Linked DNA regions of Homo sapiens. The protein of the gene in region 2 purifies or fractionates together with the protein of the main gene of each other region. This does not show direct contact. Each region holds a gene or a part of one and is shown on either strand. Other genes may lie near its edges. The genes, in order: FGG, F13B, FGB and ALB.

The links.
Region 1: the proteins of F13B (region 2) and FGG purify together in Homo sapiens (co-purification; 2 studies listed by BioGRID and IntAct, with this or other methods). This does not show direct contact.
Region 3: the proteins of F13B (region 2) and FGB purify together in Homo sapiens (co-immunoprecipitation; one study listed by IntAct). This does not show direct contact.
Region 4: the proteins of F13B (region 2) and ALB purify together in Homo sapiens (co-immunoprecipitation; one study listed by IntAct). This does not show direct contact.

Annotation. Positions count from the first base shown.
Region 1 is NC_000004.12:154,606,273-154,610,117, reverse strand, and holds part of FGG (fibrinogen gamma chain isoform gamma-B precursor), read left to right. Parts: coding exon 1-51; intron 52-354; coding exon 355-488; intron 489-1,467; coding exon 1,468-1,652; intron 1,653-3,135; coding exon 3,136-3,413; intron 3,414-3,845. UniProt on the Homo sapiens protein: Together with fibrinogen alpha (FGA) and fibrinogen beta (FGB), polymerizes to form an insoluble fibrin matrix. Has a major function in hemostasis as one of the primary components of blood clots.
Region 2 is NC_000001.11:197,056,938-197,061,289, forward strand, and holds part of F13B (coagulation factor XIII B chain precursor), read right to left. Parts: intron 4,139-4,352; coding exon 3,962-4,138; intron 3,606-3,961; coding exon 3,429-3,605; intron 529-3,428; coding exon 349-528; intron 262-348; coding exon 76-261; intron 1-75. UniProt on the Homo sapiens protein: The B chain of factor XIII is not catalytically active, but is thought to stabilize the A subunits and regulate the rate of transglutaminase formation by thrombin.
Region 3 is NC_000004.12:154,569,511-154,573,862, reverse strand, and holds the end of FGB (fibrinogen beta chain isoform 1 preproprotein), read right to left. Parts: intron 4,350-4,352; coding exon 4,064-4,349; intron 3,445-4,063; coding exon 3,213-3,444; 3' UTR 1,056-3,212; downstream 1-1,055. UniProt on the Homo sapiens protein: Cleaved by the protease thrombin to yield monomers which, together with fibrinogen alpha (FGA) and fibrinogen gamma (FGG), polymerize to form an insoluble fibrin matrix. Fibrin has a major function in hemostasis as one of the primary components of blood clots.
Region 4 is NC_000004.12:73,417,782-73,422,133, reverse strand, and holds the end of ALB (albumin preproprotein), read right to left. Parts: intron 4,047-4,352; coding exon 3,823-4,046; intron 2,628-3,822; coding exon 2,495-2,627; intron 1,881-2,494; coding exon 1,836-1,880; 3' UTR 1,813-1,835; intron 1,043-1,812; 3' UTR 652-1,042; downstream 1-651. UniProt on the Homo sapiens protein: Binds water, Ca(2+), Na(+), K(+), fatty acids, hormones, bilirubin and drugs. Its main function is the regulation of the colloidal osmotic pressure of blood. Major zinc transporter in plasma, typically binds about 80% of all plasma zinc.

The DNA.
Region 1 (3,845 bases), on a different chromosome or scaffold from region 2:
GCCAGGAACCTTGCAAAGACACGGTGCAAATCCATGATATCACTGGGAAAGGTAACTGATGAAGGTTATATTGGGATTAGGTTCATCAAAGTAAGTAATGTAAAGGAGAAAGTATGTACTGGAAAGTATAGGAATAGTTTAGAAAGTGGCTACCCATTAAGTCTAAGAATTTCAGTTGTCTAGACCTTTCTTGAATAGCTAAAAAAAACAGTTTAAAAGGAATGCTGATGTGAAAAGTAAGAAAATTATTCTTGGAAAATGAATAGTTTACTACATGTTAAAAGCTATTTTTCAAGGCTGGCACAGTCTTACCTGCATTTCAAACCACAGTAAAAGTCGATTCTCCTTCTCTAGATTGTCAAGACATTGCCAATAAGGGAGCTAAACAGAGCGGGCTTTACTTTATTAAACCTCTGAAAGCTAACCAGCAATTCTTAGTCTACTGTGAAATCGATGGGTCTGGAAATGGATGGACTGTGTTTCAGAAGGTAATTTTTTCCCCACCATGTGTATTTAATAAATTCCTACATTGTTTCTGCCATATGGCAGATACTTTTCTAAGCACCTTGTGAACCGTAGCTCATTTAATCCTTGCAATAGCCCTAAGAGGAAGGTACTTCTGTTACTCCTATTTACAGAAAAGGAAACTGAGGCACACAAGGTTAAATAACTTGCCCAAGACCACATAACTAATAAGCAACAGAGTCAGCATTTGAACCTAGGCAGTATAGTTTCAGAGTTTGTGACTTGACTCTATATTGTACTGGCACTGACTTTGTAGATTCATGGTGGCACATAATCATAGTACCACAGTGACAAATAAAAAGAAGGAAACTCTTTTGTCAGGTAGGTCAAGACCTGAGGTTTCCCATCACAAGATGAGGAAGCCCAACACCACCCCCCACCACCCCACCACCATCACCACCCTTTCACACACCAGAGGATACACTTGGGCTGCTCCAAGACAAGGAACCTGTGTTGCATCTGCCACTTGCTGATACCCACTAGGAATCTTGGCTCCTTTACTTTCTGTTTACCTCCCACCACTGTTATAACTGTTTCTACAGGGGGCGCTCAGAGGGAATGAATGGTGGAAGCATTAGTTGCCAGACACCGATTGAGCAATGGGTTCCATCATAAGTGTAAGAATCAGTAATATCCAGCTAGAGTTCTGAAGTCGTCTAGGTGTCTTTTTAATATTACCACTCATTTAGAATTTATGATGTGCCAGAAACCCTCTTAAGTATTTCTCTTATATTCTCTCTCATGATCCTTGCAGCAACCCTAAGAAGTAACCATCATTTTTCCTATTTGATACATGAGGAAACTGAGGTAGCTTGGCCAAGATCACTTAGTTGGGAGTTGATAGAACCAGTGCTCTGTATTTTTGACAAAATGTTGACAGCATTCTCTTTACATGCATTGATAGTCTATTTTCTCCTTTTGCTCTTGCAAATGTGTAATTAGAGACTTGATGGCAGTGTAGATTTCAAGAAAAACTGGATTCAATATAAAGAAGGATTTGGACATCTGTCTCCTACTGGCACAACAGAATTTTGGCTGGGAAATGAGAAGATTCATTTGATAAGCACACAGTCTGCCATCCCATATGCATTAAGAGTGGAACTGGAAGACTGGAATGGCAGAACCAGGTACTGTTTTGAAATGACTTCCAACTTTTTATTGTAAAGATTGCCTGGAATGTGCACTTTCCAACTATCAATAGACAATGGCAAATGCAGCCTGACAAATGCAAACAGCACATCCAGCCACCATTTTCTCCAGGAGTCTGTTTGGTTCTTGGGCAATCCAAAAAGGTAAATTCTATTCAGGATGAATCTAAGTGTATTGGTACAATCTAATTACCCTGGAACCATTCAGAGTAATAGCTAATTACTGAACTTTTAATCAGTCCCAGGAATTGAGCATAAAATTATAATTTTATCTAGTCTAAATTACTATTTCATGAAGCAGGTATTATTATTAATCCCATTTTATAGATTAACTTGCTCAAAGTCACATTGCTGATAAGTGGTAGAGGTAGAATTCAGACTCAAGTAGTTTAACTTTAGAGCCTGTCCTCTTAACAACTATCCTGGTTGAAAAGCAAATACAGCCTCTTCAGACTTCTCAGTGCCTTGATGGCCATTTATTCTGTCAAATCATGAGCTACCCTAAAAGTAAACCAGCTAGCTCTTTTGATGATCTAGAGGCTTCTTTTTGCTTGAGATATTTGAAGGTTTTAAGCATTGTTACCTAATTAAAATGCAGAAAAATATCCAACCCTCTTGTTATGTATAAGGAATAGTGAAATATATTGTCTTCAAACACATGGACTTTTTTTTATTGCTTGGTTGGTTTTTAATCCAGAAAGTGCTATAGTCAGTAGACCTTCTTCTAGGAAAGGACCTTCCATTTCCCAGCCACTGGAGATTAGAAAATAAGCTAAATATTTTCTGGAAATTTCTGTTCATTCATTAAGGCCCATCCTTTCCCCCACTCTATAGAAGTGTTGTCCACTTGCACAATTTTTTCCAGGAAAGAATCTCTCTAACTCCTTCAGCTCACATGCTTTGGACCACACAGGGAAGACTTTGATTGTGTAATGCCCTCAGAAGCTCTCCTTCTTGCCACTACCACACTGATTTGAGGAAGAAAATCCCTTTAGCACCTAACCCTTCAGGTGCTATGAGTGGCTAATGGAACTGTACCTCCTTCAAGTTTTGTGCAATAATTAAGGGTCACTCACTGTCAGATACTTTCTGTGATCTATGATAATGTGTGTGCAACACATAACATTTCAATAAAAGTAGAAAATATGAAATTAGAGTCATCTACACATCTGGATTTGATCTTAGAATGAAACAAGCAAAAAAGCATCCAAGTGAGTGCAATTATTAGTTTTCAGAGATGCTTCAAAGGCTTCTAGGCCCATCCCGGGAAGTGTTAATGAGCTGTGGACTGGTTCACATATCTATTGCCTCTTGCCAGATTTGCAAAAAACTTCACTCAATGAGCAAATTTCAGCCTTAAGAAACAAAGTCAAAAATTCCAAGGAAGCATCCTACGAAAGAGGGAACTTCTGAGATCCCTGAGGAGGGTCAGCATGTGATGGTTGTATTTCCTTCTTCTCAGTACTGCAGACTATGCCATGTTCAAGGTGGGACCTGAAGCTGACAAGTACCGCCTAACATATGCCTACTTCGCTGGTGGGGATGCTGGAGATGCCTTTGATGGCTTTGATTTTGGCGATGATCCTAGTGACAAGTTTTTCACATCCCATAATGGCATGCAGTTCAGTACCTGGGACAATGACAATGATAAGTTTGAAGGCAACTGTGCTGAACAGGATGGATCTGGTTGGTGGATGAACAAGTGTCACGCTGGCCATCTCAATGGAGTTTATTACCAAGGTATGTTTTCCTTTCTTAGATTCCAAGTTAATGTATAGTGTATACTATTTTCATAAAAAATAATAAATAGATATGAAGAAATGAAGAATAATTTATAAAGATAGTAGGGATTTTATCATGTTCTTTATTTCAACTAAGTTCTTTGAAACTGGAAGTGGATAATACCAAGTTCATGCCTAAAATTAGCCCTTCTAAAGAAATCCACCTGCTGCAAAATATCCAGTAGTTTGGCATTATATGTGAAACTATCACCATCATAGCTGGCACTGTGGGTTGTGGGATCTCCTTTAGACATACAACATAAATGATCTGGATGGATTAACATTACTACATGGATGCTTGTTGACACATTAACCTGGCTTCCCATGAGCTTTGTGTCAGATACACGCAGTGAACAGGTGTTTGGAGGAACAGAATAAAGAGAAGGCAAGC
Region 2 (4,352 bases):
ATTCAGATTAAAGTAACAGAATGGAAAATTTTACACCATAAGTTTAGCTACTGATGGTAAATGTAGCATACATACCAACACACTCAGGAGGAAGTGTCCATTTTCCACGATTACAAGTTATCTCATTCGATCCATGGAGAAGGTAGCCGCTTTTACATGCATATGTCACTTTATCCCCATTGTAATAAATCTTAGAGTGTAAATTTGCTGCACCATTTTCAATGAAGGGTGGTTCCTCACAGGCTACCTTCTCCTGTCCTTCTGAAAAGGTACAGTTGAAAGAGAACTGACCATTTAGCTACACATGCAGATTTCATTTTAGCAAAGCTTCTTCAAGGTGTTACTAACCAATGCATTTTGGAGGTTCTGTCCATTTTCCATCTTCACAACGTATTTCTGCTGACCCATGGATCTCAAAATTAAGTTCACATTCTATATGAACTATTTCTCCATGACGATAAGTTGTTGAATGTGTTTGAATTTTGGAGTTTATGGGCAGAGGTGGAGGAGGACATCTGTTTCTTCTTCCTTATGGAAAAAATTAATCAGCACCTTTAGTCATATAATTACAAAAAATAATAAAGATTAAATTAAAATATTCATCATGTCAAGCATCATAGAGAGAATGGCAGACTGATTCTAGGAGCATTCCTTTGATCCTCACCTCCTGATGTTAACTTCCTTGTGTGATACCCCTTTCCATGAGTAGGACCTGTGACTTGCTTCTAGCCCACAAAATACAGCAAAGGTGATGGATTAGTACGTGATTATGCACACATAATTATGTAACATCAGTTTTTAACGCCATTCTTGCCAAGAGACTCTCTATCCTTGCTGGTTTTGAAGAAACAAGAGGCTACATCATGAGCTTCCAAAGCAGAACGGCTGCAAGGCAAGGGGCAGAGGGCTGCCTTCAGTTAACAGCCACAAGAAACAGAGGCTCTCAGTTCAGCAGTCTGCAAAGCACTGAATGCTGCCAATAACTACAGTGAGTTTGGAAGAAGTCTTGCCCAGTCAAGCCTCAGATGAGACTGCAGTCCAGCTAACATCTTGATTGCAGCTTTGATAGCCATCGATGCAAGGAGTCGGTTAAGCCGCACCCAGACCCCCAACCTACACCCAATGGGAAATAATTTCTTTGTGTTGTTTTAACCTGCTGAGTTTGTGGTGACATTGTTACGCACCAATAGAATACTAACACAGCAGGCATTTTACATTCATTACCTCTTTTAGTCCTAAAATAACTTTATTAAGTAGGAACTATTATTTCTCCCATGTTATAGACAAACTAAAACTTATGAAGTAAATAAATTAATAGCATGTAGCAGATCTGTTCTTGAACCCACGTCTGTCTAAATTAAAGTCTCCTGCTCTAAAATACTGACCACACTACTTTCCTATTGCTGCTTTGATGAATTACAATTTAGTGGCTTAAAACAGCACAGATTTATCCTCCTACAGTCCTAGAGGCCAGAAGTCCAGAGTCAGTTTCACTGGACTAAAATCGAGATATCAGGAGAGCCACATTCCTGCTGGAGACTTTGGAGGAGAATCAGCTACTTTGCCTTTTCTAGCTTCTTGAAATCACCTGTATTCCTTGGCTCACAACCCCTTCCTCAAAACATTTCAACCTGTGGCTTCCATTGTCACATCTCCTGCTTCCTCTTCTGCAGTCAATCTCCCTCTGCCTCCCTTTTATAAAAGCATTTGTGATTATATTTAGAGTCTGGATAGATAGTTCCAGATAATATTCCTACCTTAAGATTGTTAACCTCAAAGTGTCTTGTACCGTGTAAGGTAACGTTTAATGGTTCTCAGTATTAGAATGTGGCTATATTTTGGGAGGAGTAAGAGAGATATAATTCAGCCCACAACTGAATTATATTGTTGTGGGCTGAATTATATTAGCCATTGTATGCCTAATGACTGTTTACCGGAAAAAACAGGCATGTTGTCATGCTGGCTAATTTGGAAGAGGAGAAGGGTATAAAAGGCCTTAAGTAGGTCTGCCATTTATTTTTGAAGTAGCACTTTGAGAGGCTGAGGCAGGCTGATCACCTGAGGTCAGGAGTTCAAGACCAGCCTGACCAACGTGGCAAAACCCTGTCTCTACTAAAAACACAAAAAAATTAGCTGGGCATGGTGGCCGACACCTGTAGTCCCAGCTACTCAGGAGGCTGAGGCAGGAGAATCACTTGAACCTGGGAGGTGGAGGTTGCAGTGAGCTGAGATCGTGCCACTGCACTCTAGCTTAGGCGACACAGCAGGACTCCATCTCAAAAAAATAAAAAATAAATAAGGAATAATAGACTTTAAAAAAATTTGCTTAAAAAATCTACTTCTCTACTACTATACCAAGGATGTCGAGCACAAATGAAAAATCATAAAATCTTTAAAGTTACTGTACAGTGCATTTAGGGAATTATGATAGTTCTGGCAATCCCACTGCATACCCATGGTCAGAGCCCTCATTTGTTTCCCCTAGCACCTGTTTCAAATCTTCACCACTTTCCTCCAAGTTCTACCTTCATGTCTTTCACCTGCCTGTCAATAGACCTTATATCCCATATTACAGAAAATAAAAAATGACTATCAAACCCTTTGCCTCACCCTATCCTCCCAATTCTCAAACTGCTACTTATCTCTTAAGACCCAACTTAAATATTGTCCATCACTTCTGTGAATGCTATTCCACAGCATACCAATCAGAATCTCTAATGTTTATTCCTGCACTTTGTACCTGAGTTGATTGTACCATTTGTCACATTATAGCAATTATTTTTTTCATATCTGCAATTACTGTTTTCATATCTTCTGCTAGTATAGGACCCTCCTCATATTAAATTGTAGGTTTGTTTAAATAACTATGGATGTCTTCTGACAGGTAATTGCATTACCTGTTTGGACACTTCCAGTAATAGAAATGTGACCATAGATATTACATTTTTGGGCAGCTTTTACAAGATGACCTCTTTTCCCATTTTCACTTCTGGGCATTATTCTTCTGCTTTTCCTGCTTTCTCTGCTTTCTACCTCACTATTTTGGAGATTAATTTTTACATCTGGAAATATGTGGCAAATTAAGAGAAAATATCCTTGCAAAGCTGCCAGATTGGGGTAATTAGTCCTAATAATTCCCAATAAGAAAAGTTATTCGTTATAATAAGGGATTTAAAATGTATAATAGATATTTTAAAATAATAAATTTAAAAGATATAGTCATTTACAAACTAAGACAAAACAAGATTTATTCAGGTGGGATATATTAAAGATTGCTGAAAATAGCACTGATTTAAAAGATAATATTTATTTTAAAAATAGGACTCAGGAAAAAAAATAGATATGACCACAGGAATTTTGTCAGAGCTAATAGAGATTAAAGCTGATAAAGACATGGCATTTTGCGAGTATTAAATTTAAAAATTTACCTTCGCATACAGGAGATTCTGGGTACCAACCAAAGTTATAGCATTGAATTAAATCAGATCCACTTAGATAATAATTTTCATGACAGAAAAACTGAACGACATCTCCTTCTTCATAGGTTTGCTTTACAGGATGAAAATAACCATTTTCAATTAATCTTAAAGAAGAGCACTTTAATTCTGCAAATAAAAGAATGAATAAAATTACAAACAAATGTTTATTTTTTCTGCTACAACAAAATGCACTATTTACATGACATAACTAGAATAGAAATTAAATTTGCCAAAAAGCTTATGAATTCATTTTATATATTTGTTAAATATCATTAGGCTTATTCTAATTTAATTCTGTGAGCTAAAATGAATTTATTCTACTTGAGAGCTTTAATTATCAAAGACTGCTATCAACATAATTAAAAATAAAGGCAAAAATGCATGAAAAGGTGAAACATAATGAGCATGACAACTTATATACACTTCTCTATGAGAAAAAGCTTTCAGAGTGAGAGTAGATTTTATTCCAAATGAGAACCTACTGGTACATTTTGGTGTGAGAGACCATCCGTATGTGAGACATTCTACCTCCTCTGTCTTCTTTCCTCCAGCTGTGTAGTAGCCAGTAGCACATTCGTATTGTACTTTGTCCTTCACTTTGAATGTTTTCTGTGTTGTGGAATAATTTCCATTATATAATTCAGGAGCCAAACATGTTTCTAAAATTATAAAAATTATTTATTTTATAAACTTTTTTAATAACCTAGATTATAAAAAATCTCAAAATATGGTTTTACAAATCTTAAGAATACATGGTAAAATCAACTCTTAGCAAAATTGAAAAATAGCCCCAATTTTTCTTTGCCTCTATTCTCTTCTTCATACACCTTGTGACCTAACTCTACCAGTTTTCTGTTTTTAAAATTCTAGTCT
Region 3 (4,352 bases), on a different chromosome or scaffold from region 2:
TAGATAGACTTACATATTACCTGGGAGTGGTCTCTGTGTTTTTTCTATTTGTACATTAACTAAGAATTGACCATCAGATTATCTACTTTAGTGGTTTTTCTTCTATGGCATTACTTCAAGCTCTAGGGATTCATTTGATCCTCTGTGAACACGTAAGGAGTGAGCAAAGGTCTGATGACTGCAGTCTTCCCAACCCGCATTTTTCATTCAGTGAACTTTTGCGACTCTCAGTATTGCCCCAAAAGTTCCATATTCAAGAACTTTGCATGTTGAGTTTCTGTTTGTGGCTTTATTGGAAAATGGGTTCTACATTTAAAAAGAGGATGTTCGAGACTTTGAAAATCACTGGATTTAGCCATCCAGCATTCACAAATGCATGAAAATTAGCCATTCTGACAGGCTGATGTTTCTGGAATCAAAGCTGGATAAGCCTCAGGCATTCATTGTCAAAAAGTAATAAAATTTGCCCAAAGGTTTTAGAAAGTCTTCTCTGGGCGGTGACAGTTAAAGTGAGGTTTAAAAACAAATAGCAGTTTGTCAGATGGTGTTGGGAGGAAGACATTGCTGCAATGAGGGCATCATATAAAAGGACCTGAACATTGTGAATAATGTTGCAATGACCACAGATGCACAAATATTGCTTCCAGATCCTGATATCAGTTCTTTTGGATATATGCCTAAAAGTGAGATTGCTGGATCATATGATAATCAGAATTTTTTAAAAAATTTTTTAGGGGCCTCCACATTTCTTCCCATGGTAGCTGCACCGTTTTACATCCCCACAACAGTGCGAAAGGATACTGTGTGATTTCACTTATATGAGGTATCTGAAACAGTCAAAGTGGAAAATAGAATGGTAGTTGCCAGGGGATGGGAGGTAGGGGGAAATGGAGATAAAATTTCATTTTTAGTAGATGAATATGTTCTAGAGATCTACTGTACAACATAATGCCTAAAATTAATAATACAGTATTGTGCACTTAAAAATTTGTTGATAATATTTCATATTAAATGTTCTTACCATGAAAAACTAAAATAAATGAACACAAGGAAACTTTTGGAGGTGATGGATATATTTAATATCTTGACTGTGCCAGTGATATCATGGGTGTATGCATATTTCCAAAATCATGAAATCGTATATGTTAAACACTTTGTATGACAGATGCATCCGACAGCATTAACTCAAGCATACCCTGAGAATGACTGTATGGTCTAAGAAGAATATGTGTTCAGAGTCTAAGCTAAGGAATCCGGGAATGGCCAACCCAGAGAGATTCACTTCTTATCTGTGAAGGACACTTGAACTCCCTGCCTGTCCGTTGGAACTCAGGATGTGCAAGGAACCAAGGCCTTTTATTTTGGGTTAAATGGAGGTTGCTAAGTGGAGAGTGCTAAGTAGAAATGTTATATAAACTACATACTCTTTACAAATAGTAGCGGTCCTGTCCAGCCCACTGCCACTGGACCACATCTGTATTTAAGTCCTAAATAAACCCTATGTCCCATTCACTGGCTCTGGGTCTCTTCTTGGACAAGGCGCCATCCCTGTTGGAATCAATAGGGCTCCAGCATGACACATGTGCAGGATTTTTTAAATTATATCAATTATATCTCAATAAAGCTGTTGAAATTTTTAAAGGGCCTGACCTGTCCTGGAATGGGGAAAAACTTAATGTGACAAAAATGTAGGTTATAGTGAAGGGAACAGGAAATGGTACTGGGACCATTTTTACTCCAGCTAAAAAATTTGAATTTAAGAAATTTGGATATAGATAGGAAGGAGCTAATGTTAAGCAGGAAGTAAGTTGATAAGAGTTTTCTGTTAAATGTGATGGCAAAGCGGTAGGTGAGTATGGGCTCCAGTGGGACAGAACTTGTGGCAGAGAAACCAGGTCAAAAGTTAAAGTTGGATTTGGTGAGTAATTAAAGAGAGTAGTAGCATTTCCAAGACAGAAATTAATGAGCTTTGCTTACATGAAAAGATTAAGAGGATAAGCTTAAGAACAATAAGTACCATAAAAATGGGTGGCAATGATGATACATTAGGGGTGGAGGACCTAGGGTCATAAGGTTGCCCGTGGCGACTTGGAGTGAAGTGTTGAGATGATATGCCCATTTCATGGGGAGAAGTAGAAAGAACAGAAAAACCACTTTTACTTTAGTTCTGGTGTAACTATGAAGAAAAAAAAGCCTAATTGAGGACAAGAATAGACCTCGTTTCTATGGGCAACAGGCATATTCTGCTCCCTATTTCATTATTTCGCTTAAAAAACACTTGGTGAAGACTTGATGCAGATTGTCCTCTTGGAATCTCTGATCCTGATGTTTATTTAAGTGGCAGAGTGGTGGCTTTTCCATGGTATATAGTCAGATTCTTTTTTTTTTTTTTTTGAGGTGGAGTCTCACGCTGTTGCCCAGGCTGGAGTGCAGTGTTGAGATCTTGGCTCAATGCAATCTCCACCTCACAGGTAGCTGGGACTACAGGCACCTGCCACCACGCCTGGCTAATTTTTGTATTTTTAGTAGAGATGGGGTTTCACCATATTGGTCAGGCTGGTCTTGAACTCCTGACCTTGTGACCGCCCGCCTCAGCCTCCCAAAGTGTTGGGATTATAGTCGTGAGCCACCGTGCCCGTCCTAGAGTCAGATTTTAAATCTTCAAATATTCAAGACCGGTTTATTAGCTATTTGAGGTTGTGAACGCTTCTCCTTCCTTACAAGTGCAAAGCCTAACTCATTGAATGTGTGGATTACAAAACAAGAAAACATTAACTTATTGCAACAGAGTCTGGTTTAATTAATAAATCTTTTTGGAAGTTTTCTTTGACAGATCCTACATAAATAAATATAGTTTTAAAAGTGGACTTTTAAACATCAGTTTTTCCTTTCCGTCATGGTTTTCCTACGACAAGGATAAAAGACCCCTCTTCCTTATTTGAAAATTCTCGCAATCAACTAGAACTGAAATTATGAACACCAACTCTGTCAAAACTATACTTTTGTTACTTCTTGGTGAGCAAGAGAAATGAAGAAAACAAAAGAAAATCATGTGCTATTTTAATGTAATTTATCCTATACTTTTTTCAAAAAGTCACACTCACGTCTGCTTGAGAGTTTTAGAGGAATATAATGTATGAAAGAAAATTCCAATAACATAATGTACAAAAATGTTGTCACATACAGAAGAGCAAAAATCTACGTATTGGGGACTATTGCTGTGGGAAGAAGGGCCTGATCTTCATACTCATCTTCCTCATTGAGTACCATGACCCCTTCCAATTCATCCATACTACACCATCATCTGTGCCATGCTTTGCCATGTCCCAGGTGTACTGTCCACCCCAGTAGTATCTGCCGTTTGGATTGGCTGCATGACATCTATTATACCACCATCCACCACCGTCTTCTTTAGAACACTGTTTTCTGGGATCTGATGTTAACCTGAAAGAAAATGTGTTTGGCGTTATTAGAAACAGAACTACGGTGGTCAAGTTACGTTTTGCAGATTACCCATAAAAGACTGCTACACTCGTGTGCACAGTAGTCTTTCCTTTGGGTGCTATACATAGAGTCACACTAATACACCAAAGACCTCCTGTGCCCTATAGCAAGAAAGAGAGATAACTGGGCCTTTGTGGCCAATCCATCTAGGGACTGTGTTTGTTACTTTATACTGGAATAATAGCTTTTACAACCCTTAGTATCAGAGAACCCTGGAAATGAAAATGAAAGTTTTCACACACACTTTAGAATATAGAGATATAGGTATTTATCTAAATGCTCATTATTCAGAAAGTAACTGTGCTCAAATTCTAGTTTTATCTCTGGGTAGTTGTGTGACATTGGACAAATCACGTAATCTCTCTAAATCTCATCTGTAAAATGAGAATAAGAATGTCTACCTTATAGTTGAAATGCTTTCGAGTGATGCATAAAGAGCTTAGGACAGTGGCTGACAGTAAGTGCCCAGGAAGTGGTAGCTATTAAAAATATTGTTAATGATTCTGAGTAATGATATTAGTGTGATTTTTAAAGCAGGAGCAAAGAGTGCCACACATACCAGCCGTCATTGTCTCTGTCATACGTGCTGAAGAACATGCCGTTGTGAATGGTCATGGTCCTGTTTTCTCCCATCAGCTGAGATGCTCCATCCATGAGGGCATTACCGGCTGTTCCTCTGTATTTGTTCACTGAGATCTGGTATTTGTTGGCTTCATTCTGTACAGTGAATCCTCCATAGTGAGCCTTTACTTTGTCTCCTTTCCAGTCCTCCATTTCTATCAAAAGTTCTGTGGGTCCCATCCTGGTAAGCTGGCTAATTTTATCATTTCCAAGCCAATATTCACCTA
Region 4 (4,352 bases), on a different chromosome or scaffold from region 2:
TCAGAAGTATAGATTGTGAAGATTTTTTTCTCACTCTGTGGGTTGTCTGTTTACTCAGCTGACTGTTTCTTTTGCCATGCCATGCAAAAGCTCTTTAGTTTAATGAAGTCCCAGCAATTTATCTTTGTTTTCATTGTATTTGTTTTGGGTTCTTGGTCATGAAATCCTTGCCTAAGCCTATATGTAGAAGGGTTTTTCCCAATGTTATCTTCTAGAATTTTTATAGTTTTAGGCCTTAGATTTAAGTTCCTAATCCATCTTGAGTTGATGTTTGTATAAGGTGAGAGATGAGGATCTAGCTTCAGTCTCCTACATGTGCTTGCCAATTATCCTAGCACCATTTGTTGAAAAAGTTGTCCTTTCCCCACCTTATGTTTTTGTTTTCTTTGTCTAAAATCAGTTAGCTGTAAGTATGTGGATTTATTTCTGGGTTCTCTATTCTGTTCTATTCCATTGGTCTGTGTGCCTATTTTTATACCAGTACCTTGCTGTTTCGGTGACTATGGCCTTATAGTGTAGTTTGAAATCAGGTAATTTGTTCTTTTTGCTTAGTCTTACTTTGGTTCTGCAGGCTCTTTTTTGATTCCATATGAATTTTAGAATTGTTTTTTCTAAGGTAAAAGCCATGTTTTATATTCCTTACCTATACCATGGTTTTTGTTCTTTTATTCAGAATTATCATAATGTCAAAATATTATTTTGAATGTTTATAATCCATAACTTAGAAGAGTATTAATGATTTATTTAATTAGCCCACAAGAAACTAGAAATCCTCTACCGAAGTGGAATAAGAGAGAACACTGGAACTTCCACAGAACCTACAGAATTTTCAGGATAGCAACACATCTTTGAAAAATAACAGTGCTGTACCACTCTATTAGATTCTTTCCATTTTTTATTAATTGAAGCACAGAGAAAAGAGGCAAAATGATTAAAGAAATTTATGTTTTTTAGACAGGGTGTTGGCTTTACACCAACGAAAAAGAAAAACAGATGAATAAGCTTTTGATCTTCATTTTCTTTCTCTTATTCTCATGGTAGGCTGAAAAACAAAAGGACAAATATAAGTCTTATTTGTAAAATGGCATGTGTTTTTCAAACCTATTAAAATAAATGCCAAATTACTTAGATCATCTTTCTGCAATTTACACCAGTGAAAACAATTTAAGCCTGTCCTAGACTTACGGCTGCTGAATTCTTCTGTTGGGCTAGGCAAGGGGACACACCAATAAATGTTGTCATAAGAAGATAAGTCCTATTAAAGCTCAGCATGTTGACAAATTGGAAATGTAATAGCAGATTCTTCACTATAAAGTTCACAGAAGGTAGATCCATCATATTCTCCAATGGAAAGGATGAGTTGAACTATTAGGTTGAACCATGTGAAATCACTGATATTCAACTGTTTTTGCCCTATAAAGCACTCTTTCATGTGGTTCAGCCTAATTCCCAGAGTATTCCACTGCTGAGCCATCACTTACTTGGATGGCTCTGTGTACCGCATCATATAAGTCAGAACAGGACAATGGGCAACACTGAAACTTTGGTTTCAATTTTGAATTTTGACCCTTTGGAAAATTACTTAATCTATGCTTTGATGTTTATCTTCATTTTCTCATCTACAAAATAGAAATAATAGTGGTTCCCAACTCAGCAACTATTTTGAGAATTTTAAAAGCTAATATTTACATACATAAATAGTTTAGAATAGTGGTCGGTGCTGGTCTATATGGCTCTTGGAAATGGTCAATCTTTGCTATTTTAATAATAACTATTATAGTTACTTTTTTAAAAAATTCAAAATATAGTTACCTGAGATGCTTTTAAATGTGATGTTATAAGCCTAAGGCAGCTTGACTTGCAGCAACAAGTTTTTTACCCTGAACACAAAGACATGACAGATGTTAGGAAAATATTAGCATTACTATTAGGATACAAAATTAACATTTATGAAGCTATTGATGATTGCAAAGTGATTTCACGTGCATCATATCCTTTAATTACAATTTACTACTATAATCTCTGGACGGAAGCTCACGGACATAGTTGTCCCCAAATGAATAAAAAAAAGTTACTGTCAGGCCATAAAGGGCAATTTTAAGTGATTTAGACATTTGAATGTAAATTCTCCCACTAGCCTATAAAATCAACTAAATCACAAACCACCACATTTCAAGTAAATGTTTAAATAAATTAATGTTTTGATTTCATGATCAAAATATTTCAGGCCTTACAAATATTCCTATTAATATTCATAAGCATCACAAATTTGGAAACAGAACAGGCATTATAAACATTTAACAGTATGGCACAATAGAGCAGGAGATAAAAACAAAGTGCTGTTTTATTCATTTTGTAAGACAATTGTTTGTAAAATAAGATCCCTGTCCCACATGTACAAAGCCTCCTTTGATATATAAATCCCTAAGCCCTAGCCTAACCAAACATGCAAAAATGAATACTGGACATATTAAAATGAAGAGAACTGTAGTACCTCCTCGGCAAAGCAGGTCTCCTTATCGTCAGCCTTGCAGCACTTCTCTACAAAAGCTGCGAAATCATCCATAACAGCTTTCAGTTGCTCTTTTGTTGCCTTGGGCTTGTGTTTCACGAGCTCAACAAGTGCACTGAGTTTGAATGGAAAAAGAAAAAAAAAAAACAGAAAAAACATTACTCACGTATAGAAAAATGGAGAGAGTAAGGATGGTAGTCCCATCATTTAAGATTATAAATCTTGGAGCCAGGCAACTCTGAGTACTTTGGGGCTCAGGCATACCGCTATAAGTCTCAATATTCTCATCTGCATGATGAGGATAATAAAATCCACTTTCATGGAGTTGGTGGGAAGACCAACTGAAACAATCAGTATAAACCACTCATCACGTTATGTAGTGTCAACAAATTTCTTTTCAGTAAATCTCTGAAAAGAAGTATGTCATTGCAATTATATATTATTCAGATTTTGGAAGTGCCATATTATGTCATATTGAGTTTTATTGCTATTAAAGAGCTAAAAATGATCCTTAAAAATTTAATTATCTTGGACTTTATTTAAAATTTTTCTCATCTATAAAGATGAGAAACTTTATATTTGGTTCTTAAACTTTGCTCCCTTCAAAGCTAATAGTGGGGAGGCTATAGAAAATAAGGCTATCCAAACTCATGGGAGCTGCTGGTTCTCTTTCACTGACATCTGCAAAGACAACAATGCCAGGGAGAGATTTGTGTGGGCATGACAGGTTTTGCAATATTACTCTTAAGCCTAGACGATGATTACAGCCCACAAGAGATGACAGCAACTTTCTATAGCTAAATTTTATGCAATTATAACCCCTGTGATAGCAATAGGGAGTTGAGCTTCAGGGCTTGCATTTCTACATGTTTTTTATCCAAGTCTCATTCTCAAAAGTCACATCTTGGGGGTTTGTCTCATGTGTGGGGCCACCATAGGGCAAACTTAAAATAATTATTTACATCTAGAAATAAATTCTCCTATGGTTCCCATTAACTAATTTGCCATGTGCACAAATTTATCAGTTAATTGTTCATCTTTTTCTACTGAATATGGCCTAACATGTTATTCTATTGTGGCTTTAATCCACAATATTACTCTGAATAATTTTAGCAATATTATAACAGAGGATTTTGTCTTTAAAAAGTTATTCATTTTATTCTGGGTACTCTTATCAGCATAATAAGGGCAACACTCCAATACTTTCCTCTAAGAAATATAATCACTACTTCAGGAAAAAGTTGCTAGCTTGAATTGACAGTTCTTGCTATCAAGACTACAAACACATGCAGTAATGAAATACTCCTCACGTTTGTTTCTTGATTTGTCTCTCCTTCTCAGAAAGTGTGCATATATCTGCATGGAAGGTGAATGTTTCAGCATTAAACTCTTTGGGAACGTATGTTTCATCGACTTCCAGAGCTGAAAAGCATGGTCGCCTGTTCACCAAGGATTCTGTGCAGCATTTGGTGACTCTGTCACTTACTGGCGTTTTCTCATGCAACACACATAACTGGTTCAGGACCACGGATAGCTAAAGAACAGGCAGGAGAGCAGAAATTCAAAAGAGGTGAAGCTGAAAATTTTCTACTAAAAATACAAAAAATTAGCCAGGCATGGTGGCATGCACCTGTAGTCCCAGCTACTTGGGAGGCTGAGGCAGGAGAATGGCTTGAACCTGGGAGGCGGAGGTTGCAGTGAGCCGAGATGGCACCACTGCACTCCAGCCTGGACAACAAAGCGAGACTCCGTCTCAAAAAAAAAAAAAAAATTATCATCCTCGGGGCCTTGACTGCCAATATCACACATACACACACGTGCATGCACACACACATGCACA